7 linked regions of the Homo sapiens genome follow. The protein of the gene in region 6 purifies or fractionates together with the protein of the main gene of each other region. This does not show direct contact. Each region holds a gene or a part of one and is shown on either strand. Other genes may lie near its edges.

Region 1 (4,186 bases), on a different chromosome or scaffold from region 6:
TTTTACATTTTTCTAAGTGAAAGAAGCCAATCTCAAAAGACCACGTATTGTATTATTCCATGTATATAACATGTCCAGAATAGGCACACCCATAGTAATGGAAATTAGATTAGTGGGTGCCAGGGGTCAGGGGGAGTGAGGGATGGGAATTAACTACTAATGTGTACAGATTTTCTTGTGGGGTTATGAAAATGCTCTGGAATTAGATAGTGATGATGGTTGCACAACCTTGTGAATAAAAACTTTTATTGTATGTAAATTACATCACAAAAAGATTTTTTTATGGTTTTAAAGAAAGCAAGATTAGATACATTAGATACATTTCAAGAAAGAAGTGTTTAGCTCTGTCAAATGCTGACACTGTAGGATGAAGACTGAAAAAAGGTACATTCTTTTTACAAGCCAGATGTCACTGGGGACCTTGGCTCAAGCAATATTAGTTGGGGAAACCATGCGGGAAGAACATCAGGCAGGAGTGAGCTGAAGAGTGAATGAGTGGAATAAATACACACATCCAACTTTGCTCCCTCAAACTCTACTAATAAAGAGATTTTTTAGAAGGCATAAAGCTATAAGGGCAAGGAAAATGGAAAAGGAGACAACAGTAATGCAACTTTGGAAACTGGAAAGCAGATGGATGACTCAGCAGGCCTGGAAAAGCTGAATTCTAAAGTAAAAGTAATGCTGAGAACCAACAAAATTAACCCTAAAGAATCCTCAAAAGGCTCAGGTGTTAATGACCAGGAAGCTCTGGAAGTGAGAATAAAGAGGAAGAGCCAAAGGAAGGATTGCATGAAACTTTCGGCATCTGACCTTTCCTACTACCTAGGCAGAAGTCTGGAATTTTATTTTCCGTGCAGGATAAAACAGAGGGTCTCTGGCTGCCTGGCTTGAGGGACACCAAGGCATTGTTAAGGATAGCAGTACATACCAGAAACAAGGGTAATACAGGAAAATGTATGTACTGAATCCTGGGACCATCCTTTCTGCCTTTCCTTCCCCTATCCCTCTTCCGCTCAGCTCCTAAAACGCTGCAGCCAGCCCTAAATCCACCAGGTTGGAGACTGGAGGAGTCTTCTCTGTGGACACTGACCCAAAGGTGCTGATAACCAGGATTTCTCAGCCAAGAGCCCAGCCAGATCTACAGAGAAGTTTGGGGTACACCAGCCCAATCCATATGTAAAGAGCTTCAGATCCACACAAGAAGATAAGCAAGGGCTACCAAACACTAAAGAAATTCTCTAACCTTAAAGATAGAAATTAAAACGAGGGTGAAGATCTTGATGCAAAATGAGTATGCCAGAAGAAGATTTAAAAAATGTTAACTATCAGTAATATCTTCAGAGAGATAAAGATATGGTAGCCATTAAAAAAAAAAAAAAAATTGCAGCTGGGAGCAGTGGCTCATGCCTGCAATCCCAACACTTTGGGAGGCCAAGGCAGGTAGATCTGCTGAGCCCAGGAGTTTGAGACCAGCCTGGGCAACATGGCAAAACCTTGTCTCTACAAAAACTGCAAAAATTAGCTGGGCATGGTGGCTCACACCTGAAGTTCCAGCTACGGGAGGGTGAGGTGGGAGGTTTGCTTGAGCCCAGGAGGTCAAGGCTGCAGTGAGCCGTGTTCATGCCACTGCACTCCAGTTGGGTGACAGAGTAAGACTCTTGTCTCAAAAAAAAAAAAGATGGCCGGGCACGGTGGCTCATGCCTTTAATCCCAACACTTTGGGAGGCCGAGGTGAGAGGATCACCTGAGGTCGAGAGCTCAAGACCAGCCTGGCCAACATGGCGAAACCCTGTCTCTACTAAAAATACAAAAATTAACCAGGCATGGTGGCACGCGCCTGTAATCCCAGCTACTCAGGAGGCTGAGGCAGGAGAATCACTTGAACCTGGGAGGCAGAGGTTGTGGTGAGCTGAGATTGTGCCACTGCACTCCAGACTGGGTGACAGAGTGAGATTCCATCTCAAAAAAAAAAAAAAAATTGCAACACCACAAAGAAAAGAAATCATTCAGAAAAATGATAGCTCTTTGAAACTGAAAATTTGTTAGCGAAAACTGAAAAACTCAATGGAAGAATTTGAAGATAAAATTGATAAAATATCCCAGAAACAGACCAAAAAGACTAAGAGATGGAAAGAAAAGGTAAGAATATTACATAACCCATCCAACAGAAGGCTGACATCTGAATAACAGGAGTTGTAGAAGGTCAGGAGAGAGAAAATGAGGGAAGGAAATAATCAACTATATGACTCAAGAAAAATTCCAGAATTATAGGCATGAGTTTCCAGATTAAAGAATCAAGAGTGATAATAGCCTCAGAATTCTCAATAGCAATACTGGAACCAAAAGATAATGGAGCAATGCCTTCAAAGTTCTCATCAAACCATTTATAAGCAAGAGAAAAAGTAGAATGAAAAATTTTCAGTTAGGTGAACTCTTAAAATATTTACCTCCAAATTCTCTTCTCAGGAAGCTACTGTTGGATGTGCTCCATTAAAAGGAGGAAGTAAACTAAGAAAGGAAAACACAGGATATAGGAAACAGAAGACACACACAGACAATAGGAACCCCAGAATGATAGCTGTGCACCCGGCATAGAGGGCCACTGGACCTGACTGGAGCCATCAGAAGACCTCATCAATGGAGTACCTACGTGAATAAAGATTCTGAGAGATTTATAAACAGAAAATTAGGGGATTAAATGTCTGCAAATATTAAATGTCTGTAAAGATAATTGGCAATAGTGGTAAAAATACTAGTAAGATAATTATGGTACATTTATACAGTTGAATCTTATGCAGCTGTTAAGGGGGTTTGCTTTATATACTGAGATGGAAGTATCTCCAAGATATATGGTTAATAGATAAAAGTAAAATAATGGACAGTGTATGTAATAGCTACCATTCCTGTAAAAAGAGCTTAATATTATGCATCGAATTTTATTTAGAAAGATCAATAAAAATGAAGTAGATGTATACACACTGATATGGAAACATCTTCAGAATATATTACTAATTGAAAAAAGATATACAACAGTGTATATTGTATACTCCCATTTTGTAAATAAATAAATAAACAAAAGTGACTACATAATAAATGTAATACCCTTGCATACTAGAGACTGGCAGGGGTAGTTGGCTCTAGCAGGGGGATTTTTTCAAACGATAGTAGGGTAAATATTCTCTCATACACAGAAGAGCAACTAATTCATACTGGGACAAAGATACTAAGTACTGTGATGTATCGAGTTGCCTACCTGTTCAAGCATCACTATGGAGTCTCGGAGCACTCCCTTTAAACGATGGGCCTGATCTTTATTCTTCTGAATAGTTTCTGCTCTTGACACCATATCAGAGGCTAAACTGAAAGAAAAATGCCATCTTCAAAATCTGGAGAATAGCTTCTGATCTTTTTTTCATTTCCAGAAATCATCAGAGCCCCATAAATTTGCAAACAAAACACAAAATTAAACAAACAAAAACAGGCTGTTTATGGCTACAGGATAGTTAGCAGACCACAGTCTCTGAAACTGAAATTAAGTTTTCTGCAACTGAAGAATTACTGAAATAATATGGTGAATACAGGTCAGGGGGAAAAAGACTTACTTTAAAGATTTCTCTTCTTGGAGGCGGAGACGGTAAAAGGACTGAGCAGCATGTTCTATCTTTGACAGCTTCAGAAACAGTGTCACATTCAACAAAACTAATAACAACACACTAGGCAGAGCAAATTATATGTTAATCCACACTTTTCCAGACCTAAAGCATTGCTAATGCAGAATATACATGCAAAAGCTTCAAAAATGTGTATTGTCTACACTGTTTTTCATTGTTGTTATTATTTAAATCAATTATCCCTATTTTATTATATGAAATAATTACTTGTAAGTATTAAGTGGAGGTTGAGGAAAAGATGGAAGGTAATTAGAGTGACAATACAAGTCCTTGAATAATCCGAACTCACAGGTTTGGGGTATCTGTGACATCTCTCCCCTCTGCTAGGAATACTAGTCAGTGTTGATGTGAGACCACCAGCTTTGAAATCTACCAGATAAGCTTTTAGGATCTATTTTTGGGTGCCTTTGGCTTAGGCAATTATACGCTCATAATGCTGCCTTTCAGAAAAGGAAATGAAGATCAATATGTAGCTGATCTCAGGTAGAGCATGATGTACCTCTTACTCCCAG
Region 2 (4,186 bases), on a different chromosome or scaffold from region 6:
GCCTCCCAAAGTGCTGGGATTACAGGCGTGAGCCACCGCGCCCGGCTTTTTTCTTTCTTTCCTTTTTTTGAGACAGGGTCTCGCTCTGCTGCCTAGGCTGGAGTGCAGTGGCATGATCTTGGCTAACTGCAACCTCCACCTCCCAGGTTCAAGTGATTACAGGCGTGAGCCACCGCACCCAGCCTAGATGACTGATTTTCTAGAAGTCAAGAAAATATGCTGAGAAAGCTGCTTCAGATCTGAAAAACTAAGCTTTCAAACTGGCATCCATGTTAGGGTATAAGGTCCTTTATTTCCTTTTTATGAGTCAGGGGCATATTCTAGTGAGAGCAGTTCCCAGTCTTCCCATTTAGATGAGAGTGAAAAACAAGCAATTAGGGTCTGCTAAAGGGTATACCTTCAAGTAGAAGGAAGAAAAGAACTATAAGTAATTCTGGACTTGGGGATTTCTATTTCTAGGATCTTGGCCTTTTGTTGGGGATTAATATCGAATGGAGGCAACGAATCATACTGATTAGGTGGGTGACTGGACTGCCTTAGCTCTGCCATTTACTAAGCTGTATAACCACTTTGGGCAAGTTAAATAACTTTGATGTTTCCTCATCTGTGAAGTGGGGATAATACCTTATTTTAATCTTATTTTTTAAAGACAAGATCTCACTCTATTTCCCAGGCTGGAGTGCAGTGGTGTGATCATGGCTCACTGTAGCCTCCCAGGCCCAATCCATCCTACCCCCTCAGCCTCCTGAGTAGCTGGGAACACAGGCGTGTGCCATAATGCCTGGCTAATTTTTTATAGAGATGGGGGTCTTCCTATGTTGCCCAGTCTTGTCTTGAACTCCTGGGCTCAAGTGATCCTCCTGCCTTGGCCTCCCAAACTGTTGGGATTATAGGTGTGAGCCAGAGCACCCAGCCAATACTTCATAGGGTTGTAGTTTGTTTTTCGACAAGGTCTCATTCTGTTACCCAGGCTGGAGTACAGTAGCCTGATCATAGCTTACTGCAGCCTTGAACTCCTGGGCTCAAGTGATTCTCCCACCTCAGCCTCTCAAGTAGCTAGGACCACAGGTACATTACCACCACTGGCTAATTAAAAAAAAAAATTCTGTAGAGAGGAGATCTGGCTATTTTGTTTGTTTGTTCGTTTTTTGAGGCAGCTGAAGAGGAAGAGGTCTACAGTGACACAATCATAGTTCACTGCAGGTCAAACTCCCTGGGCTCAAGCGATCCTCTCGCCTTGGCCTCCTAAAATGCTGGGATTATAAGTGTGAGCCACCATGCCTGGCCGAGTTATTGTAGACATTAGTTATTGCTATTTATAAAAGCTCCTGGAACAATAGAGCCATAGCACATCAGCTATTTCCTTTAAGTACTGTGGCCCCTTTTTTTTCTCTTTTTGGAGATGGAGTCTCACTCTGTTGTCCAGGCTGAAGTGCAGTGGTGTGATCTCGGCTCACTGCAACTTCCGCCTCCTGGGTTCAAGTGATTCTTCTGCCTCAGCCTCCCAGCTAGCTGGGATTACAGGTGCCCATCAACAAGACCAGCTATCTTTCTTTTGGACTACTTTGTGCAGCTACTCTTCCATCCTTCCTACATGCCTATGATTGCATAAGGGAAGCAGGGTTCCCGACCACTTGCACTTGATAGAAGCCCCAGGCCTGTCCCCCTTTGAACACTAAGTATAAACTGGGTTGTGTTTATGGCAAATGAAGGATGGAATAGATGGATTAGACCACTTATAAATCACTAAATAAAAATAACTCTCGTTTTTGGGCCTCTTCTCACTATCATATCATATGGCCTTGTGGAAGAGTGAGATACAGGAGAAAGGGACCCAGGCTACTTTTAGCGTAGGCCTTACAAAAAGAATCTTCCTGACTCCTTCATGAGCCATTGCAGTCTATAGAGACCTCATACAGATCTATCTAGGGTCCTGTGATAATGAATGGTTTACATTTTCCTACAGTGCATGGTGGTAATTAATGGTGTGTGTTGCCTCTGAATAGCTCCTTTAGGAACGTTAAATGGTGGCAGACAGCTGACTGAGGACTTACAAATTCAGGATTTCCTCTGGCTCTATTTCAGCTTAATAATGAAAAAGAGGCAAATAACCAAAGGAAGCTGTTACGGACCTTCTGCAAGGAAAGAAGTTCCAGGGCCACTATTAGGGTCAGTACCCATTTAGCCCTATGTTTCATACCATCTATAGCCTCAGTTTTAGCACAATACCTAGTTTTCAAGAAAACCTTGACCATATTCCATTTTTAAGAAGCAGGACATTTAAATTATACCCTTGTCTTTTAGATAAAACTCTACTAACACAAAGAAAAAAGCTGGAAATGGAGTTAGCCAAGGTTTTACAGTATGATTTATAGAGAAAATTATATTGGATAATTAAAACAAAAACCAGAGTTATACAACTTGCTTAAAGAGCTTTTGACTTTTTGTACATAATTATAACAGATACTATAAAAAACTTTTATAAAGGCAATTTAGGCCAGGCACGGTGGCTCACGCCTGTAATCCTAGCACTTTGGGAGGCTGAGGTGGACAGATCACCTGAGGTTGGGAGTTTGACACCAGCTTGACCAATGGAGAAACCCTGTCTCTACTAAAAATACAAAATTAGCTGGGCGTGGTGGCGCACACCTGTAATCCCAGCTACTCGGGAGGCTGAGGCAGGAGAATTGCTTGAACCTGGGAGGTGGAGGTGGAGGTTGCGGTGAGCTGAGATTGCGCCACTGCACTCCAGCCTGGGCAACAAGAGCAAAACTCCATCTCTCAAAACAAAACAAAACAAAACAAAACAAAACAAAACAAAAAAGCAATTAAAAAATCTATTGAAGTTTCCATAAGAAACAAAATTTTCACAATGGAAATTCCAGCTGATTAAATTTCTATGTAATTAAATAAGCATGAGTGACAGGTTTTGTGTCTTGTTTAGTAATTTAACAACTTTTTAACTTTCTGAAAGTAGAATCACCTCAATTCTTACCTGAAAAATTTCTATAAGAGTTTAGAAAAGAGCTATGCAAACTGACACTCAAGCCATATGGGTTTGGGCAACTTATCTCCAGTGTTTATTGTCAAGATGACATAGGATATATCAGGCCTTTTTTTTTTTGCAGGGTCTCACTTTGTCACCCAGGCTGAGTGCTGTGGTGCAATCAAAGCTCACTGAAACCTCAAATTCCGGGGCTCAAGCAATCCTCCAACCTCAACCCCCCAAGTAGCTGGGACTACAGGCATGCGCCACCATGCCTGGCTAATTTTTTGTATTTTTTGTAGAGACAGGGTTTTACCATGTTGCCCAGGCTGGTCTTGAACTCCTGAGCTCAAGATCCGCCCAACTCGGCCTCCCAAAGTGCTGGGATTACAGGTGGGAGCCACCACACCTGGCCTATCAGGCCTTTATTTAGCAGAGAGAAGATATTAAAGCAACACACTTTTAAGTTTCTTATGTATTATTTCTCTTTTCTTTCCACATAGGAAATGGTCTGAAGACAATGATATAGTGTGATTCCTTGAAATCCTTCTTGGGCAGTGGAAGGGTTCAGATTTTTTCCCTCCAACTTAATCAGATGAAGAGTGAGAGTAAGCAGTATTTAAGAGTACACAGACAGGCACACATATGCACTTGTATTTTAACCACCAGGGCCGTGTCAGTACGGAAAGCATTTAATAAAGATTTGATAGACCGACTTTTAGATGCTGAATTACGTGTTTTAGTGGTAAAGATCTCAATGGCTTTGTCAAAATTCTAGTGAGCTTTTAAGTATTTTAAGATGCCAAATACTTGCTTTTTATCTGGAAAATGTTTACAAATGTCTTATGGGGATATATTTTTATTTCAAAATTTACTATGAATAAATATTTTGCAATAAACAGCAACCAAAGTACATTTGCTTCAATTTTTGCAGCAAAAGATTTCACAAGAGCAACTAAGAGGCAACTATTTAAATAATAATTATAGAATCTGCCCATAAAAAACACATATAATACATACATTTTAGAGAGACAGGGTCTTGCTCTGTCTCTCAGGCTGGAGCACAGTGGTATAATCATGGGTTACTGCAGCTTTGACTTCCCAGACTCAAGCTATCTTCTCACCTCAGCCTCCCAAGTACCTGGGACTACAGCGAATGCCACCACACTTGGCTAATATTTAAAAATTTTTCGTAGACAC
Region 3 (4,186 bases), on a different chromosome or scaffold from region 6:
AGAAGAAAATAGATACATAAACTAAATAAAGTACATACTAAACAGACCTTCAGATAATTTCTTACTTCTGTATTCAGACATTCTGCAGAGAAAAGAGTTGGTGGTTAAAAAAAAAAAAACTTATGGAAAACTAAGTGGTCAATTTCTGAAATCACTGGTTCATAAATAAGTGGGGATCCTGACAACAGCATCTCTTTATCAGGTTAACAGTAGTTTGTTAAATTCGAAACAAATCTATTCTACAAGGATTTACAACTATAGACAACTGCTTGAAGTAAGGGTCTCTTCTCAGATATTAAAATTTTCAGAACAGATAAAAGCACAGAAGACCTAATGTGTTGAAATGAATGACTAAATTTTGCCCCCACCACATCCATACCAAAAGCTACTGAAACAATATACTATGCCGTAAGGCTAAATTTTACCTGCTACCAATGTCTTCAATAGAAGAGATTCCATGGAACTGACAGGAGAAAGCAGTGCTGATTCCAGCATGTTCAATGCTGTAGCACTGAAAGACTTCAGCAGCTCTGGGTTATCCTCAGTCACTGTCTGCAAACAATATGCTACGAGGCAAAAAATAAGTATTTAGAAACAAATGAATTCTGCTTTGGATAATTTACACCAGTATAACTCATCAATAAAACATTGTATCATTACCACTTCATTAGACACATGTAGGTTTTGCAAAATATATATGCTTTATCTCAGGGTGATATGCGCAAATGAGGCTTCCCAAACTATCAGTGCTGGAAAAGATCATGTTTCTTTTCTTTTTAAATTTCTAATCCTGTACAGATCTATACTTTTTTTTTTTTTTTTTGAGACAGTCTTGCTCTGTCACCCAGGCTGGAATGCAGTGGCGCATCTCAGCTCACTACAACCTCTGCCTCCCAGGTTCAAACGATTCCTGTGCCTCAGTCTCTCAGGTAACTGGAATTAAAGGTATGCGCCATGATGCCTGGCTAATTTCTATATTTTTAGTAGAGACAGGGTTTCACCATGAAAGCCAGGCTGGTCTGGAACTCCTGGTCTCAAGTGATCTGTCCGTTTCGGCCCTTCAAAGTGCTGGGATTACAGGCATGAGCCACCATGCCCAGCCAGATCTACACTTTTTACAAAATACAATTAAAAAGACTCTTTTATTTTTTTTTTGAGATGGAGTCTCGCTCTGTCGCCCAGGCTAGAGTGCAGTGGCACAATCTTGGCTCACTGCAAGCTCCGCCTCCTGGGTTCACACCATTCTCCTGCCTCAGGCTCCCGAGTAGCTGGGACTACAGGCACCCGCCACCATGCTTGGCTAATTTGTTGTATTTTTAGTAGAGATGGGGCTTCACCTTGTCAGCCAGGATGGTCTCGATCTCCTGACCTTGTGATCCGCCCGCCTCAGCCTCCCAAAGTGCTGGGATTACAGGTGTGAGCTACCACGCCCAGCCTAAAAAGACTCTTAAATGCGGCAATGTCGTTACTATAAATGTTTATAAAAGTTTATCCTCAGGCCGGGTGCGGTGGCTCATGCCCGTAATCCCAGCACTTTGGGAGGCTGAGGCAGGAGGATCACTTGAGGTCAGGAGTTGCAGACCAGCCTGGCCAGCATGGCAAAACCCCATCTCTACTGAAAACACAAAAATTAGCTAGGCATGGTGATGCACGCCTGTAATCCCAGCTACTTGGGAGGCTGAGGCAAGAGGATAGCTTGAACCCGGGAGGCGGAGGTTGTAGTAAGTCGAGATTGCGCCACTGCACTCCAGCCTGGGTGACAGAGCTGAGACTCCATCTCAAAAAAAAAAAAAAAATTTTACCCTCAATTTATGTACTTATCAAGGACCAGTAGCAAACAGCCTTAGGTTTTGGGACGTCTGGCTTCCTTTAAATTTATCATGACCTTCAAAGTTAGGGTTATTTCTGGCAGAGCAATAGCTCTTTAAGAAAAAAAGTAGTTTATATAAAAGTATGAGCAAATTAAGAGATGTGTAAAATATTAAATCATGCCCATCAAAATTACTCAAAATGCATGCTACTGCTGTGGTTGATGATACATTTATATGGAAATCCACATATATGCATTTCTGTACATATATCCAAATGTAATATCTTTGTCATTAAGAAACTAATTAAATTTACTTTAGCCAACAGCCATGACTGCTACCATACAGGTTCAAAAAAAGTTATATGAATACATGGGATGGAATCTTATAAGTTCATTTTACTATATGTAAGCATTGCTTGACTTTAGAAGCAAAAGTAATAATGTATTTTAAAAAATCATTAATCTAGCTACATGGAGAAGGAAAACACTATTATACAATGCAAAATGACTATTCTAATCCATTTCAAAAACGCTCATTAAGGGGAAGAAAAACTAAAAACAGAAATAAATCTATAAGACTAAAGGCACAAAAATAGAAGTGATTTTTCTTGTAAAAGATATGAACTAACTTTCCTGAAGTTCTCTTATTGTAACAAAAACTGTCCTCTGAGATTAAGTCACCTATCAATTTCCTAAAAATGGCTGAATCGTTTTTAAAATCCCCATTTACTCACAACTCTCCAGCCCCACCAAGATTCCATTTAGAGAAATGATTTTTAAAATTTTCTCAGTAGTATTTATTCTACTATTTTCCCTCAATTCTGTTCTCTTAAAAATATCCATTAGAGTCAAGAAAAACAGCAGTCAGGGGAATACACTTCTTCCTCCCCAGGAGAAATGCAGTTCCACAAAGGGACAGCTGGATGCCCGCAGTAATGATCGGTAGAAAAGAAATGCTCTCCCTCAATTGTTTCTCCACTCCCACCCAGAATTCTGCTGAGTTGCCTATGCTCTGACTTCTGCCTCCTGCCACTGAGCTGAGGGTCCCCAGTGGTTCCCCAGCCCAATAAAGAGAAGGCGAGGCAGCCAAAGCCACTGAAGTTGCTGGACTTTGCCTTCCCTGTCTCATGGAAGGCATGAAGGCCTAAGTGGAATTTCAATCATTTCTTTTCCTCTTTTTCTCTCAACAAAACTCAGGCCGTCAGTTTTCTGCTGGACGTATGAGATAGTAGCACAATACATTTAAATAAGTTTAGATTCCAATTAACTGGCTTAAAGGCCTGGTAGTTGTGCGTTACTGTTTCTTAGTAAATGGAGATGAAAACTTCAAGAATTAATAAAGGCTGCTAAGAATGGAAACAGGCTAGAAACCACATATCCTCACATAATTACCTTTCTCCCTTTCAGAGTCAAAAGCAGAAAAACTGAATGAGTAGGTAAAGAATTAATATTAATCACAGATTTAAGACCCAGAAAAAACAGGTGCTGAGCTACACATTCACATACAACGAAACAAAAAATCACTCCAGTGGAATAAACACGCCAAAGCTGCATAAAAATTTTTGAATAAGGCTACACATTCTTAATAAGTCATCACCTTTTCTTCACTTACCTACTGAAATAGCCAGGTCAACATTGGTAGGAAACCTACTTAAATACTTTAACACAATCTCCAAACACCCTTCTTTGTTGAATATAGACACTGCTCTACTACTGCATTCACTAAATTGAAGGGGGAAAAAAAAGTTTTACTATTCACATTTTAACAGTAGGAAATCAACCATAGCAATCCATAAAAAAACAAACGAGGCTTTATAAACCAAGGAGTTGGAATCAAACACCCACCATTTTTATCGATGAAGGAACTAACACCCATTCACATTCACTGTACATGAGAACTGGCTATCTATATTTTATTTCTATCACAATGGGACCTTTTCATCAATCTCTTTGCCATGATGCCAGTTTCCTTATAGAAGGTTAGAGCTGGAAGAGATCTTGTAAATCGTTTAATTCAACTCCCCATTTTATAAATGTGAAGACCCAGGCCCCAAGTGGTAAAGTGGCCCATCAAAGAGCACACATTTTGTTAGTGGTAGAGCCAGGCCCAGTACCTAGGTTCCCTGGGTCCAGGCTACTGTTTTTTCTTTCCTCCATACCACAATGATAACAAGTTAAAGGAGGATAAAAGGCCTCTATATTTATCACACAAAAACACAAATTTATTTTTTATTTTTTAACCTACTATATTTTAGAACATTAACAAAAACACACATTTAAAGGAAAATAAAATTATATTTTATTCAAGCCTTTTAGAGTGCAATTATAATTTCATCAAGCAGAATTTGCAGTCTACAATAGAGAAATTACAATAAG
Region 4 (4,186 bases), on a different chromosome or scaffold from region 6:
CTCGGCCTCCCAAGGTGCTGACAGGCGTGAGCCACTGCGCCCGGCCAGAAGTCTTTTTTAAAGTACTTTTCTGAAAATTCTGAAATCATTTCATTGAATGTTTGAGATTAGAACATTTCTTACTTGGCAAACCATCTGTAACTCCTGAACATAACTGATTCAGCTTCATGTCACTTTTATTCACCTGTTTCCTTGAGTGTGAGAGAAAGGGAGAAAAAGCCTGGGATTTTACTCGTAGCCTCTTTTCCATATGGTACTGTTTAAAGGAGTGATAACTGCGTGGTGTTACATTCTCCCAGAAATGTTTTGGGTTCCATTCAAATCTAGGTATCCTCGTAACATTATGTAAAACAAATAAACGTTGTCTTGTATGTGATAACAGAAAACAGGCCGAGAGTCACAGGACCACTGTGCCTAAGGCACAGTAAGAGGATCCCTACCATCCTTTTCCCATCAAGGATCCAAAACAGAGCTATTTAAAACAATGCCCAACTTGGGAGCACTTCTTTCTCACTTTTTTTTTTTTTTTTGAGACGGAGTTTCGCTCGTCTCCCAGGCTGGAGTGCAGTGGCCCGATCTCAGCTCACTACAACCTCTGCCTCCCAGGTTCAAGCAATTCTCCTGCCTCAGCCTCCCAAGTAGCTGGGATATTACAGGTGTGAGCCACCACGCCTGACTAATTTTTATATTTTTAGTGGAGACAGGGTTTCACCATGTTGGCCAGGCTGGTCTCAAACTCCTGACCTCAGGTGATCTGCCCACCTCGGCCTCCCAAAATGCTGGGATTACAGGTGTGAGCCACCAACCCCGACCCTTTCTCATTTCTTATACTATAAAGAGGTAAAACTTCTCAAATAAATGAGATTTTAAAAAATCTAGCAAACCTCGGTAAGTAGGATGTCAAGGATTCTGAATGACAGAGACCCTTAAGTCCTTTCAATCCCTTTGTCATTCTCATCCATCATTTGGAGAAAAATTGGGGGTGTTAAGACTTGTGGAGGTATAGTTAGAATTTGGTGTTTTTTAGCTGTAACACTCTAGAGAATAAGTCAAGCTAGACAAGGGGTTCATTGGAAAGGCTTGCTTTCTAACGAGTTCCTTGAGGGGCCTACAACAGCCCAGCCAACCAGGTAAGAAAACAGAAATGGACACAATGCAGAAACCCAAATATAATTTTTTTAAAAAATTCCAAAACAGATGAAATCACATTAATTAAAAACAAGACTGTAATTTCTCAACAATAAAAATTTGGGCACGAGGTAATGAAATATAGATAATATGCAGCACACAACTTGGAGAATAATGGCCTTTGAATAGCATAAACACTACCTCATATTGAGGATGGCCTGCACAGATAAGCAGCAGCTCCAGAGTTCGAAGGTCCCCAAGACCTTGGCCTGGAGTACAAACAATTTTTTCAAGAAAAGTTTCACATAGTTCAGTGAAAATACGGCAGTAATTCAGAACTCTGTAGAAGACAGGGGAATGAGAACAATGAGTCAGAAATCTGGATATTATAAGTATATACAGGCACAGTTAATCAAATAAATAAAAGGTTCCTCAGTCTAAGGGACATCTAGTGATTATTTACTATGCTGTATCACAATCCCCATGACAGACACCTTTACCTAGATCGTACACTCCTACGCAAGTGACTTGTCAGTTCAAATTCTCAATTATTAAAACATTTGAATAAAAACTCCCATCAAATCACACTTGATATTTTAAAATTTGTCTCCAACTTTTAAAGCCTTACCTTTCTATGGTAATTCTACAAACCCTGCACCCAATTTGCCACTCTAGGTTCAGAAGAGCATAGTAGAGCATCTTTAGGAAGCACTATCTGTACTTTACAGAATCACTGAGAATCACAAATGACAGACGAATAATAAAAAGTGACTTAAAAGAATGACCAGACTGTAGGTAAACCCAGGGCTCCAGACTTAAACAATTACTCACTTGTCTAAATCTTCACGTGCCACGGCCATATGATAGGCAGTCTCCAATGTCAGCACTCCCTGAAAAAGTTGCATGGCTAATGGCAAGTTAGTCTCCACATTCTCAATGGCATAGAGAGCTGAGCATACACAGTCCGAAGCAGCTTCATGTAGGTTAGACGAGGTCTTATCCTGTTGCTGGGGAGGTAGCAGGAATAGGGAAGCAAGAAGTATGATCACTAAGGAGTGATCTACAGTTGGCCCTGCACACCCTAGGGTTCAATCAACCATCGATAGAAAATATTCAAAATATAAGTAAATAATAATACAATGAAAAACACAAATTTAAAAATTACCCTATAGCAACTATTTACATAGCATTTACATTGTATTAGGTATTATAAGTAATTTACAGGTGATTTAGAGTATATGGGAAGATGTGGATAGGTTATATGCAAATACTGCACCATTTTATATAAGGGACTTGGGCATCTGCATCTCTTGGAAACTGTGCACAGAGGGGCAGGGGTAGTGGGTGGTCCTGGAACCAATCCTTTGAAGATAGTGATGGATAAATGTAATAGGAAAACAATTAGAGCCTCTTTCTTTCTTTCAATTATAGCCTCTTTCTGAACATGTACTTTAAATGTGTAACAGTCAAGTCATAGCCTTCCATGAGACAACATCCATCAATCTTCCCAATCTTATTTCTATTTCCTTATATGTCAAGCAAATCAGCCTTTCTGTCCCGAAGTCATGGTCGTATCATTTCTAATCTCCATGTTCTTGTTCACACCAGCCCCTCCAAATGGAAAGCCATGTGTTCCCTACCCTATTCTAGTGTGTGAAAAATCTTTTCCATCCTTTTTCTGATACTCAAGTACTACCTAAAATGAAAGGGCTCAACAAGTATCAAAGACACATACCTAAACACATCATTGTGAAATTTCAGAATACCAGAGTTAAACAAAGGTCTGTAAAATTTCAGGGGAAGAGAGGAGGAGGTAATAGTAAGGAGCAGAATTCAGAGTTCTCTGACTTTTCATTAACAATGATGCATGCTAGTAAAGGAGAGCAAGGCCTTTGAAATTTTGAAGGAAAATAATATTCAGCCTACAACTTAATACCTAGCTGAGCCATCAATCAAGATCGAAAGCAAAATAAAAATAGTTCTCAGGCATGCAAAAATTCCAAGTTTACTTTCCATTATATCTTTTCTGAAGAAGTTATTTGAGGGGGTTTGAGAAACAGCTAACCTAATCCAGAAAGCACAGTAAAGACAAGTCCCAAGATGACAGGGAGTAGATCTAAAGAACAACTGATGCAAATCAGAGCAGACCAAAAGGTCCAAGAAGGGAATCCTCCCGGGTTTCTAGTGAAGAGAGTACAGTTGAGAGGTTGAATACACTTAGTAAGGGCGTATTAGTCTTCCTTGAATAATTTTTTTAAAAGGATATTTAAAATCTCCAGTGGGACAAAAAGGTATATAAGCAGGTTTGGGAGAGCACAAAGATGCAAATTATTTATTAGGTATTCTTAGATTGAATAGTAGGTTCAAAGATTCTCATTATATTACCAAGTTATAAAAAGTCAGTGTTCGAGCTGGGCATGGTGGCTCACACCTGTAATCCCAGCACTTTGGGAGGCCAAGGTGGGCAGATCACAAGGTCAGGAGATCGAGACCATCCTGGCTAACACAGTGAAACCCTGTCTCTACTAAAAATACAAAAAATTGGCCGGGCGCGGTGGCTCACGCCTGTAATCCCAGCACTTTGGGAGGCTGAGGCCGGTAGATCACGAGGTCAGGAGATCGAGACCACGGTGAAACCCCATCTCTACTAAAAATACAAAAAATTAGCCGGGCGTGGTGTCAGGTTCCTGTAGTCCCAGCTACTGAGGAGGCTGAGGCAGGAGAATGGCATGAACCCAGGATGCAGAGCTTGCAGTGAGCCAAGATGGCGCCACTGCACTCCAGCCCCGGCGACAGAGCGAGACTCCCTCTCAAAAAAAAAAAAAAAAAAAAAAAAATACAAAAAATTAGCCAGGTGTGGTGGCACACACCTGTAGTCCCAGCTACTCAGGAGGCTGAGGCAGGAGAATCATTTGAACCCAGAGGGCGAAGGTTGCCGTGAGCCGAGATTGTGCCACTGCACTCCAGCCTGGGCGACAGAGGGAGGAGACTCTGTCTCAAAAATAAATAAATAAATAGTAAGTGTTCATACTTATTCTTTTGTATATATGAAGTATTT
Region 5 (3,206 bases), on a different chromosome or scaffold from region 6:
CATGAATTCAATGAACTAATACCTTTAAGCCCTTAAACAGAGTTACATATTCGCTTGCTAAATAATACAGAAATCAGTTACAGCCCCTTCTAGAACCTGTAGTCCCCCGCCTCCTGCCTGAGCAGTCACACCACATTATTCTGTCTCCTGTACTTCCTGGGCATTTCCAGGGTCATCAAAAAGCCCAGTGTATTGCCGAAGGGACTAAGGTTAGATCTCAGGAAGGACTTCCTAGAGAATAGCCAAGGGGAGTCTGGTCATCCTGGGAGAGCTGGCCAGTGGAGCAGGCGCTGGGGTCAGTGGGGTAGGGTCTGAGATTTTGGGGACAGTGAGTAGTGGGAGAGGCGAGGTCTGGAGCAAAATGGAGCCAGGGTGCCACCTAGTGGTTCCCTCACCTCCCCAGCCCCAGAAGCTCTTCCTTCTGGGCCTGGGTTCTTTTCCCTCCTCCACACCCTTCCCTAAAGAAGGCAATAACTTTTGAGTGCCCAAAACAGGAGAGGCATTTTTCTTGCGTTGCTTTTATTTAATCACTTCCCCAGCCCTTCCATCGCCTTTTTTGAGGATAAGAAACCCAAAGTTCCCAGAGATTAACTTGCCCAAGATCACTTGGCCTGGATTTGAGCCTGAGGCTCAGACTCCAAAACCCACACTCAATTTGCTACATCTCCCAGGGGTGGGGCCAAGGCAGCTGTGAGCAAAAGGAGAAGTATCAGCTTCTCAAGGGCCTAGGGTTTGTTGGAAGGGCAAGGCAAGGGCAAAGGGGGATACAGAACAAGGGGGCAAGTACCAGTGCCTGGGATGGACCCATCCATTCAGGCAGGGGGTGTGGGGTGTCCCCTGTGCTTAGAAACCACCTAGCATCATAGCTGCAACAGCACTTTATTGGGATCTGAGTCTACAGTTCACATAGGGAGGTGAAGCCGTGGGAGAAGCAGGGGTAAAAAAAAAAAGGGGGGGGACTTCACCCCCTAGGGACAGCTGCTTCCAAACCTAACAAAACCCCAGGGTAAGTCCTCGTGCTGGGCCTCGAGCCAGCAACTCTAGTCAAATCCCAAGGCACCGGTCAGCATGTGGGTCAAGGGGCCCACTATGGGGACATACACTCAAGAGGATGAAAGCTCTTTAGCTTCAGAATCAGATTGCCTTCCCCAGACCCCACCCCAAAACAGGCTCCTCTCCCATCTCCCCCTTCACAGTGACAAAACACAAGCCCACATCCCAGGGCCTGGAGTATTTGCATGCATTTGCATAGACGGCAACGCAGGTCCAGCTAAGGCCTTTTTCTACATAAAGTGACATCAGTGCAGGGCTGGTGATTTTGCTCTACTGTGTGAAAGATATCTGAGGACACCAAACAAGCCAGGACAGAGTCCACCCTCCAGGAGTTAGATAACGCTGGGATCTTGGGCTGGGCCAGGCCAAGGCCATTCCCTGTGGGGCAGGGTGTCAGCCCCGGTGGTGGTGGTGGTGGCTATGGCTGTGCCCCTCCCTGGGCCCCGCAGCTCTTGGGCTCTGTGAGTGCTTGTCCTTCTTCCCTGACCTGTGGGGAGGAAGAGGCCTTTAGGGGACAATACCATGCAATGAAAACGGGTTCCCCAAGGAGAGAGGACCCTGCTCCTCCCAATGAAGCTGACTTGAGCAGGCACCACCAAGCATATGTGGGAAAAACCTGGTCTCCCAGGATAAAGGCTCCAGTCGGGGAGACAGGAAGATGGGGATCTCCCTCGTCCCCTGGGCCATGCAGGTAGAGGTAGGGCAGGGCAACTCAGGAGAAAGAATCCCCCTGCCCAAAAGGGGACTGCTCAGGACCACTCTGGGGTGGGCACAGGCAGCTTCCTACCCTCAAGGGAAGAAAGGAAGCGGACCTGAATGCCTTCTCTAAGGGAAGCCAGCTGGGGACCAAAAGTAAGGATACTCAAACTAATGATCCTTGCTCTTCACATCCTCCCGACTGCCTCTGTCCCACCCGACCCAACTCCCCCACAGCTGCCCACCTCTTCTTCAGTGCTTTGTCTCCAAAGAAGTGGCTGAAGATGAAGTCCTCAAAGTCATCTACTTCATCATCATCACCTGTCTGTTGCACAGCCACCTCCTCCAAGCTGTCCTCCAGGGCATCCACAAAATCCCGGAAGCGGAGGCGGTCATGACGGAAGATGCCATCCTCACCAAAGAAAGCAGGTGAGAGGGGTAGCTCCTTGGTCAGCTGCCCAGCCCAGGGCAGCCGTGCCAAGTATGTTCTTAGCAGAGAGGCCAGCTCCTGTTGCCGCACTGGGGCTAGCTCTGTGCCAAAGAAAGTCAGGCCCTCCTGCCGGGCACACTCGTCCACACCTGAGCAGCCCTGGGGTGCCCGGTACTTGGGCCTCAACAGCTCTGCCCAGGATGGCAGGGGGTCATGGCTGTCCTTAGTCCCTTCCCTCCACCGAGGTTGCTTCTGCTTTTCTCCAGAGGAGTGGAAGCTACCACTTTTCCTTGGGGGTTCCTTCGGGCCCTGTCGCTTGCCCTCCTTCTTGCTCCCCGACTCCTCCACCCTTGGCCTGCCCTCCTTCCACCTTCCTGCTGGCTCCCTGTCCTCCTGACCTCCCCAGTTCTTCTTCCTTTCCCGGCCAGATTCTTCCTTCTTATGTTTCCAGTGCTCAGCCTTCCGGTCTCTCTGCCCATCCCACCACTTTTCCTTTCCACTCCACTCCCTAGAATTCTGGAAGTGGGACTTCTGGTGCCAGGCCTTTGAGGCATTGGCAGAGACCCCAGGGTCCTGGCCCCAGTTCTCCAGGCCCTGCAGTTTCTGGGCCAATCTGTGGCCCAGCTCAGCCAAGCCAGCATGAGCTGGGTCCCCGCGGCTGGCATCCTGCAAGCTCCTCTCCAGATCCTGCTGTACAGACCCCAGCAGCCGTCGCTGCCTCTCTAACTCTTGCCTTAATGCCTGTGCCTCAGCCTCCAGCTGTTCCTTCTGCTTCAGGAAGCTGAGTTCTGGCTCCTGCTCCCTGGGGCCTTGCTCCCTGATGGCCTTGTCACCCTGTGGGCCTCTACCCCCACTGAGGCACACCCCATCTGGGCCCCGGACACAGTCGGCCTCCAGCCCCTGGAGCCGGGCCCGCAGCTGCTGCAGCTCTGACTCCAGAGCCCGCTGGAAGGCTTCGCCCTGCTGCAGAGCCCCCCGGAGCTGGGCATTCTCCTCCTCTAGCCCTTTGGGCTGGTGCATCAGGCTC
Region 6 (4,186 bases):
TCCCAGTTACTTGGGAGGCTGAGGTAGGACAATTGCTTGAGCCTAAGAGGTTGAGGCTGCAGTGAGCCATGATAGTGCCACTACCCTCCAGCTTGGGCAACAGAGCAAGACTCTGTCTCAAGCAAAGAAACAAACAAACAAAAACAAAAGCAACAACTAAAAACCAGCACTAAGAACAAAAACGCTAAGTAATCGGGAGGCTGAGGAGGGAGGATTGCTTGAGGTCGGGAGCTTGAGACCAGCCTGGGCAACATAGCGAGACTTCATCTCTACAAATAATACAAAAATTAGCTGGGCATGGTGGCACCTGCTTATAGTCCCAGCTACTTGGGAGGCTGGGAGGATCCTTGAGCCCAGGAGGTCAAGGCTGCAGTAACCTACAATGGTACCACTGCACTCCAGCCTGGGCACAGAGTGAGACTATGTCTCAAAGTAAAATAAAATAAAAATAAAAATAACATGGATAGTGTAATCTTATCTACATGAAAAAAATCTGTGCAAACATACACAGAATGATTTCTGAAGAATGTTCATCTACATTTTGTCATTTATTATCTCTACAGGGCAGGAGTTCACGTGAGTGAATGTTTTTCCTTTTTGGAATTTTTTGATTTTTAAAAAAATAATAAATGTGTTATAAAAAGGTTAAATGCAGCTGCTCGTAATGCAGAGTCTATGTCTGTAACCATCTTTTCTCCTTCCCTTGCCTCCCGATAAAGAGATTCTTTCTTCTCAAAGCAAGTCTCCCTCAATTCCACCGCTCTGTCCCCAAGTCCCCCCATGCCTCTTCTGTCCCTCCCCCTCCCAATGAGCACGGGCCATCCCTGCCTTGAAATCCTTTGAGCTGGGCCCTGCCTCCCACTCTAAGGACACAGCTCCTCCTGCGCCTTTGCTTCTGATCCACTCAGCCCCTCTGGCCCTTGCAACCTGGCCTTCTCTGATCCATGAATCCTGAGCTAACTCTGCTGATCAGCAGTCAACGCGGTGGGTCATTTCCTCCCCCTTGGAACTTTCTCCTCTCAATTTCCATGACATTACCATCATGGTTCTCTGCCTGTGTCCTGGACTGCTCCTCTTGGCTCCTTTACAAGCTCATTTTCTTCCTCCCACTCTCTAAAAGTAGAGGTTTCTCAACATGGGCTAAGGCCACGAGAGAATATCTCCAGGGGCAAGTGGCAAATAGGCCTTCTCCTGACAAACCCTCCCAGGTCTCTCCAATGTCAACCAGACACAACCGCGTGTCCTTTATGGAGCACTCAGGTCCTTTCTGGCTTAGGGCTCCCTCAACTGCAGGCCATCTCTCTCCCCCACCACCAAACACTCTTCCCCCAGGACCTGCTGTCCAACTTTTCCCAGCACTCCTTCCTGCCCTCTTCACTGACCCCATCCAACTCCTCCCCACCCTTCAGCTCCTCCCTGAAGCCTTTCTGAACTGCCCAACTTGAAATGCTCCCTTTCTCTCCCGGGATTCCCATCCAATCTCCCGTATATGCCGTGCATTTGTTCTTTTGTGGCATCTGCCTGGATGATTCGGTTCTCGTCTCAGGTGTGCACGTCTTATTTCTGCTGGGAGGGCAGAAAGCACCCAGGCTTGCCTTCCAACTAGCGTGCTTCCTCCCTAAAAACAGGAACTCCATACATGTTGGCTGACTGAAAAGTGTGGGCTGGGGCAACAACTCAGAATAACCCATTTTTTAGCTTGGGTTCAGGTGAAGGGGAAGGTGTCTCATCTGAACCATGAAGAAGGTGCCTGCAGGTCTCCACCTGGAGACACTGAGGACACCGATGGAAATACAGCTGTGAAGCCCAGAGAGGCAAATCTGGTGCCGTCAGATTTGCCAGCTCCCACATGTCACATCTTCGAGGCTGGGAGAGATTGTTCAGGGAACGGGTGCCAGCAAGAACCAGGAGCCTGTCTGTGGCTGAAACCGAGGACGCATTTCGAAGAACAGCAGCAAAGAAGGAAAGCCAGGAAAAGAGCCCAGCCCACCCCCAAACTCTCTCGCTGGGAACTCCCTTAAGACACTTATCACTGTTAGTCTTTTTTTGAGTGACTTGGGCACAAATCCTATGTGTCCTAGTAAAGAGTAAGCTCCCTGAGAGAAAGGGCAGCATCTGAGCTCTTTGTAGCTTCCTCAGTCCTTAGACATATATAGACATACAGAGCCGGGCACCTGGCAGTCGCCCCATCGCTGTTTGTTGAATACAGGCATCTTTCTGCATGTTTACGGAATGCCTGCGTGAGGTTCTGACGATACCATGGTACAGTACAGATGTGCACACTGAACAGACTTAGTGGACACCCCCTAAGTGCCAGAAACAGACAGAGACCCCACTGTCATGAAACTTACACTCTGATGCCATCCCATGGGATCATCTGGTCCACCTGGATGAGGGGACTGACCCCAGGGAGTACCAGGGACTTCATCCCAGTGATAAAGCTGGCCTATGACAGGGCTGGGCCTGACCTTGGGACTCAGTGCTCTACACACACACACACACACACACACACACACACAATCACTAAATTATACATGATCAAACATGGGCAGTGCATGTATGAGAGCCATGCCCAGCTATGCCACCCTGTACATCAATTCTAACACCCAGAACAGCTGCCTGTCCTTCACGGAAACTGCCAAGCTATCCATCAACCTAGCCTACTGAGAAACAGAAGGCTTTTTCCTCGCTCTCGATGAGCCTTGGGACCTGAGTCTTCAGTTATTAGGCTTACCCCCAGCTAGAGGGCAAAGTGACTGTTTTGGCTGGGGGTGGGAGTGGGGCCGATGTTTGAGGATTTGGAGCCGAACTCCAACATCTGAGCCGCTGGGCTCCCTGGACCCCTCAGTTAGGCTGTCTGGTGGCTCTTTTCACCTTCACCACATCAGCTCCTTTTCTTCTAGCCCTGGCTCCTTCCCGTGCCCCTGGGGAATGAGGTCAGGCTTTCTGGGGCCCCCAGCCTGGCCGCTCATGAGTGGAGATCCTCTCCTCTCGGCCAGAGGAGCGGTGCAGGGCGGATTCCTCCTGGGATTGCATCGCTGTGTTTTCACAGCCCCTCCTCTCCCCACTTCCACCCTTTGCCTAAATGAAGTGGGCACTGCTCTCTGATTCTGGAAGGAGGGGTTGTTTCTCCCACGCCTGAGGAACAGAGGGCTGCCCCCTGCCCTGGCCACCGCAGTCAAGCAGAAGTCTCTCGGGGCAAAGAGGCCACAAGGTGGGCCCGCTTCCAGCCACCTCACCACTGAGTCACTTCCGCTCCCCAAGTGGTGCTCAGGCGCAGAGCTCTTGGGCCTCAGGGACCACCCAGGAGGACAACGGGGCCGAAGAGGGCAGATGATGGGGCCGGGACTAAAGCCCATGTCTTCGACTCTCAAATCAGTCTTCACGGTGCACCAGCCTGTGTCTTGGGCATCTTGGGGGTGGGTCACTCTTACTGGAAGTGTGGAAACAACCCCACAGGTGGCTGCTAATGGCTTGGACAAGCCAGTGGGAAGCTCCAAGGTGGGCCTATCACCAAGGGGCTGGTGGCACCTGAGTGTCCCCTTAGGGCTGCGTGTGAGAGGGGCCAGGTGCCAGCTTGGATCAAAAGAGGCAGCGGCCTGGGAGGCCCTGTCAGCTGGCCGTGGGGCAGGAGGGGCCTCGGGTGGAAATGGCTTGGCTGGCAGAGTGGGCCCTGGCACTCGGCCACCGGTGGGCTGGGCAGCCCGACTAGCGTGTTTTCTTGATCACCTTCCCCACCATCACCGGTTCTCCATACAACATCACATCACATCACGTGTTTGTTTTGAGCAGGGCATGATCCTTTGCCAACAGATGTAATTCGAAGTTTGGTGTGGCCTCTGGAGGAGCACGGGAAGGGTTCTCTGGAAGGGGCTGCCTGCCCTACTCTGCCGGGCACTTTACTTTTTCCACTCGAGTGAGAAAAATCCTGGTTCTTTACACCCCACAGATCCCGGAAGCCAATTATTTGCTGTCTGCCCTGCCATTTCCATCTCTGGTAGAGGGGCGGCTCTTCCCGGCTGCCAGGGAGGGAAGTGCTGGAAGTCAGCCCCCAGCCCCGCAGCCCATGCAGCCCCTGTGATGTTATGGGAGATCACTGAGGGGTTTCCGGAGGCTGGAGGAAAAACACACCAGCGCCGCCCTCAGGGCCTCCGTAGACAGGAATCCCGCTCGGCACATGAAGAGG
Region 7 (3,966 bases), on a different chromosome or scaffold from region 6:
CAGCAGGTTTAGATGATGTAAAAGCTACTTGGAACAATGTCCAATTGTTCCAGTCTCCTTTTCCTGACTCTCACTCCCTGGTTAAAAAAAAAAAAAGTCAAAATATTTTTTTCCTCCCCCTCAGTTTTCCTCACTTCTTTTCAGTTCTACATTCTAGTTCAGATTGTTTAGCTCAAGCCCAGCATATAATTACAGTTAAAAAAAAAAATAATCACACCACTGTACTCCAGCCTGGGTGACAGAGCAAGACCCTGAAAATAAATAAAAACTGTTGTGATCTACCCCTAAAATCCTACCCTATTTTCTGGCTTTTGCAACTTTCAATATCACTAAGGGATAATTTTCACGAATCAATATTGGTGTAGTCCAGCCTCCTGAACTTTAATCAACCTAATCACTTTATAGCCTGAATACAATCCTGTTAACTATAAGTTCAGTAAGCTAAGTATTAAGGAATATGATAGTAAACAGGTCTTTACTTCACAGGCTAGTTGCTGATGTATAAAAAATACTTTTTACAAGCTAGATGTGGAACTTAAATTGCATGTGTTCTCTGTTTTAAGAATAATCTTTCATCAGTATCTGTAAAAATATGTGAGTACATTGGCAGAGGTACTAATGTGTAGAAAGGAAAAAGGTTATGTCATTAGGAATTAAGTAGGGAAAATGAGGTACAGAAGAGTGTTAAAAAAAACAAGTCCATTGATTCTTCCCTCCTGTCACTCAGTTATATCCTCAGAAAGGGAATCTTAGCTTTTTGTTGGCCTATTTGATCTCTAACACATTACGTTAATGTCTTCAGGAACGAGGCCTGTGCCAAAAGTAATATTAAGGCTGGGGTGAGGAAGAAAGAAACCCTTCTTATACCCTTTTATAACACCAGAGTGTGTTTTTATTATCTTAAGCGGGGGGGAAAAAGTTTTTTTTTTTTTTTTTTTTTCTTTTTGAGACAGAGTCTCACTCTGTCGCCCAGGCTGGAGTACAATGGCACGATCTCAGTTCATTGCAACCTCTGCCTCCTGGGTTCAAGTGATTCTCGTGCCTCAGCCTCCTGAGTAGCTGGGATTACAGGTGTATGTTACCACACCCAGCTAATTTTTGTATTTTTAATAGAGACTGGGTTTTACCATGTTGGCCCGGCTGGTCTTGAACTCCTGACCTCAGGTGATCCCGCCCACCTCAGCCTCCCAAAGTGCTGAATTACAGATGTGAGCCACTGCACCTGGCCAAGGAAATTTTGATGGGATAGGTAAAGTCTATGGGAGACCTTATCTTAGGAAACTCATGCCAGACAAAACTTGACTAAAATAAAAGTTAGGGTTGGGTGTGGTGGCTTATGCCTGTAATCCCAGCACTTTGGGAGGCCAAGGTGTGAGGATTGCTTGAGCCCAGGAGTTTGAGATCAGCCTGGGCAACAAAGTGAGACCCCCGTCTCTCCCCAAAAAAATTTAAAAATTAGCCAGGGGCAGTGGCATGTGCCTGTCGTCCTAGCTATTTGGAAGGCTGACACAGGAGGATTGCTTGAGCCCAATAGTTGGAGGTTGTAGCTCACTACATGCCACTGCACTCCAGCCTGGTGACAGAGCAATTACCTGTTTCATACACAAGAAAGTTAGGATAAATTACTGAATGGCAGATTCATGGTAGGTTATAAGCTGGCTATTTGGAGATATAGTCCAAGTTTGAGCTAAATATGAGCACCTTAATTGTATATGTATAAGCATATTTCCTTAATGTGACATGGTTCTCATGGCAATTCTCCCAACAATACAGTGGTTAGGAATGTGCACTCTGGAGCCAGAATGCCTGGGTTTGGATCTTGGCCTTGCCACTTACTAGAAATGTCATTTCCAGGAAGTTTGCTTCCTTATCTGTAGAATGAGATGAGTAGGGCTGCTTTAACAGTTAATATTGGGTAAAGCCACAGGTGTTTGTTTAATGAAATAAATGCTTAAATTTTTATTTACTCCTAAATTCACTGAACCGTTTTTTCTGTTCCCTTCTCCTATAAAGAACAAGGACCTTACCTGCATCATGTGCAGCAGCTGCAGGGCCTTGGACATCATCATAGGACTGCCCATCTGTGACAATTACTAGGAAGTTCTTGTTGGGGCTCTCCCTTATAGGGCCAAACACATTTCTAACAGTGAAGGAAATGGCATCACCAGTAGCTGTTCCACCACTCATATAGCGGATGTTTCTGATGACAGCTAGGACATTCTCTTTGGTGCTATAGTCAGTGAAACTGAACTCCGTGCGCTGATCATAAGTAAACTGTACAGCAGCTATCTTGGCACCAATGTCCGAGATTTCAAAAGTCTTGGCTATGTTGGAAACAAATTCAAGCATGAGGCGGAAATTGCTATCTCCAACACTGCTGGAGCCATCAATTAGAAAGGCAATGTTCACTGAGTTATAACAGGTCTTGCTGCACATCATTTGTTCATGAGTGCACAGCTTCTGTACCAGAGGCTTTACGTATTTTGTGGTGCCAAACCAGTTGGGCATGTGGTAAGAGAAGAAGCCATTATTCCGACAGACAGCCTAATGGGGGAGACACATAAAAGATATCCAAAAGGATCAAAAGTTGTTTCTTCTTAAAAACTGGAAAATCCTGAATGTTTCAAGTTAATCTAGATAAGAGGCAGTCAGCACTGCACTTAGAGGTCCAAAATGGAATACCCATCACTGTAACAGAAGATAACCCTCACCACTTTACCTTGTCAACAAATGTGACATCCTGAACCATCCCCAGTTCTTCAGGGATAGGCTTGGCCACAGAAACTATAAATACATTGACACCAAACTCTCTGGCCACAATGCCTGCTTCCTCGATGTCATCAGAAGGCCAACCATCAATAAATACCACCACCACTTTGGGGATCCCTTTTCTTACTCCAGCATCTACCGTGAAGAATTTCTGAGCAGTATGCTTCAAGGCTTTTCCTAAATTTGAAAAAGAAGCAAACAAATAGCCTTTACCACTGCTCAAACCACATTTCTGTTTCCCTGTAGCATTTGATGCTGCAAAGTTTAAGAATTATATATAGAACTGGCAGTGGGGCGGGGCACACAAAAAAGAATTATATAGAACCCAGTTCTGTAACAGATGCATCAGCTGGGAAAGTTTAATTATCTACCAGGCCTATTTATCTTCACAAGCCATATTAGTTCCCCCTCCACCTCCTAGAAGCCTCACATTTGTTTACCCCACATCAATCGCCAGTTAGAAACACAAAACTGATTCCCACTTCCATGCATGTGCTCTCTATGTAGCCCTTTGGTGACTGATTAGTACCTCTAAGAAGTCTCTCTTCAGAGTCAACGGTAGTGCTACTCATTCTTTCTGCCACATCTGCATTCATTAGATAAGTCTGTTGATTTTCACTTCTTTTTAGCATTACAAAGAGATACTTCTCCAATGTTATATCTAGTCAATCCAATGTATGAGAATTCTAAATCACCATGCTTTATATTTTTTAAAATAAGAAATATCAACACTTTGGTATACTTCCATTATAAATTGAAAATTTATCTCAGATGATCAAATGCAGACCTAGCCAAGATTTCAGTTCCAGGAGGATTTCACATCTGCTCATATAAAATAGCATAATACTGTTTTACATGTCTGATCACTGATAACCCTCTCCTATGTTACATCCCAGGTATCAAAGTCTACTTACCTGTATTGGAATTACCCCCTCTGAAACCTACTTCCTTTATGGCAAACAAAACATCTTTGGCTGATGTAAAGTTTTTCAAGTAAAATTCTATTTTGGGATGTTCACTGAGTGGAAGAAAGAAAATGTTATTCAGGGAGAATTAAAAAGGTAAAATAAGCAACATTACATGCCTTAAAAAACAGTTTTAAAACCAGACAACACACAAGTTTCTTTCTTAATTCCATAGTACATAGTCAACTGAGGCATTGCATCCTTACTTGAATTATTGGAGATATTTCAGAGG

Evidence for each region.
Region 1: the proteins of SCARA3 (region 6) and GRAMD1C purify together in Homo sapiens (affinity purification with mass spectrometry; 3 studies listed by BioGRID and IntAct, with this or other methods). This does not show direct contact.
Region 2: the proteins of SCARA3 (region 6) and IKBIP purify together in Homo sapiens (affinity purification with mass spectrometry; 2 studies listed by BioGRID and IntAct, with this or other methods). This does not show direct contact.
Region 3: the proteins of SCARA3 (region 6) and HEATR3 purify together in Homo sapiens (affinity purification with mass spectrometry; 4 studies listed by BioGRID and IntAct, with this or other methods). This does not show direct contact.
Region 4: the proteins of SCARA3 (region 6) and TNPO3 purify together in Homo sapiens (affinity purification with mass spectrometry; 4 studies listed by BioGRID and IntAct, with this or other methods). This does not show direct contact.
Region 5: the proteins of SCARA3 (region 6) and PBXIP1 purify together in Homo sapiens (affinity purification with mass spectrometry; 3 studies listed by BioGRID and IntAct, with this or other methods). This does not show direct contact.
Region 7: the proteins of SCARA3 (region 6) and COCH purify together in Homo sapiens (affinity purification with mass spectrometry; 3 studies listed by BioGRID and IntAct, with this or other methods). This does not show direct contact.

The regions. Positions count from the first base shown.
Region 1 is NC_000003.12:113,939,416-113,943,601, reverse strand, and holds part of GRAMD1C (protein Aster-C), read right to left. Parts: intron 3,717-4,186; coding exon 3,606-3,716; intron 3,363-3,605; coding exon 3,257-3,362; intron 1-3,256. UniProt on the Homo sapiens protein: Cholesterol transporter that mediates non-vesicular transport of cholesterol from the plasma membrane (PM) to the endoplasmic reticulum (ER).
Region 2 is NC_000012.12:98,637,660-98,641,845, forward strand, and holds part of IKBIP (inhibitor of nuclear factor kappa-B kinase-interacting protein), read right to left. Parts: intron 1-4,186. UniProt on the Homo sapiens protein: Target of p53/TP53 with pro-apoptotic function.
Region 3 is NC_000016.10:50,071,951-50,076,136, reverse strand, and holds part of HEATR3 (HEAT repeat-containing protein 3), read right to left. Parts: intron 3,533-4,186; coding exon 3,423-3,532; intron 567-3,422; coding exon 426-566; intron 1-425. UniProt on the Homo sapiens protein: Plays a role in ribosome biogenesis and in nuclear import of the 60S ribosomal protein L5/large ribosomal subunit protein uL18 (RPL5). Required for proper erythrocyte maturation.
Region 4 is NC_000007.14:128,999,100-129,003,285, forward strand, and holds part of TNPO3 (transportin-3), read right to left. Parts: intron 2,136-4,186; coding exon 1,960-2,135; intron 1,469-1,959; coding exon 1,330-1,468; intron 192-1,329; exon of another isoform or gene 124-191; intron 1-123. UniProt on the Homo sapiens protein: Importin, which transports target proteins into the nucleus. Specifically mediates the nuclear import of splicing factor serine/arginine (SR) proteins, such as RBM4, SFRS1 and SFRS2, by recognizing phosphorylated SR domains.
Region 5 is NC_000001.11:154,943,578-154,946,783, forward strand, and holds the end of PBXIP1 (pre-B-cell leukemia transcription factor-interacting protein 1), read right to left. Parts: coding exon 1,995-3,206; intron 1,541-1,994; coding exon 1,447-1,540; 3' UTR 503-1,446; downstream 1-502. UniProt on the Homo sapiens protein: Regulator of pre-B-cell leukemia transcription factors (BPXs) function. Inhibits the binding of PBX1-HOX complex to DNA and blocks the transcriptional activity of E2A-PBX1.
Region 6 is NC_000008.11:27,636,648-27,640,833, reverse strand, and holds part of SCARA3 (scavenger receptor class A member 3), read right to left. Parts: intron 1-4,186. UniProt on the Homo sapiens protein: Seems to protect cells by scavenging oxidative molecules or harmful products of oxidation.
Region 7 is NC_000014.9:30,884,374-30,888,339, reverse strand, and holds part of COCH (cochlin isoform b precursor), read right to left. Parts: intron 3,831-3,966; exon of another isoform or gene 3,788-3,830; coding exon 3,684-3,787; exon of another isoform or gene 3,666-3,683; intron 3,356-3,665; coding exon of another isoform or gene 3,299-3,355; intron 2,947-3,298; coding exon 2,720-2,946; exon of another isoform or gene 2,545-2,719; coding exon 2,028-2,544; exon of another isoform or gene 2,014-2,027; intron 1-2,013. UniProt on the Homo sapiens protein: Plays a role in the control of cell shape and motility in the trabecular meshwork.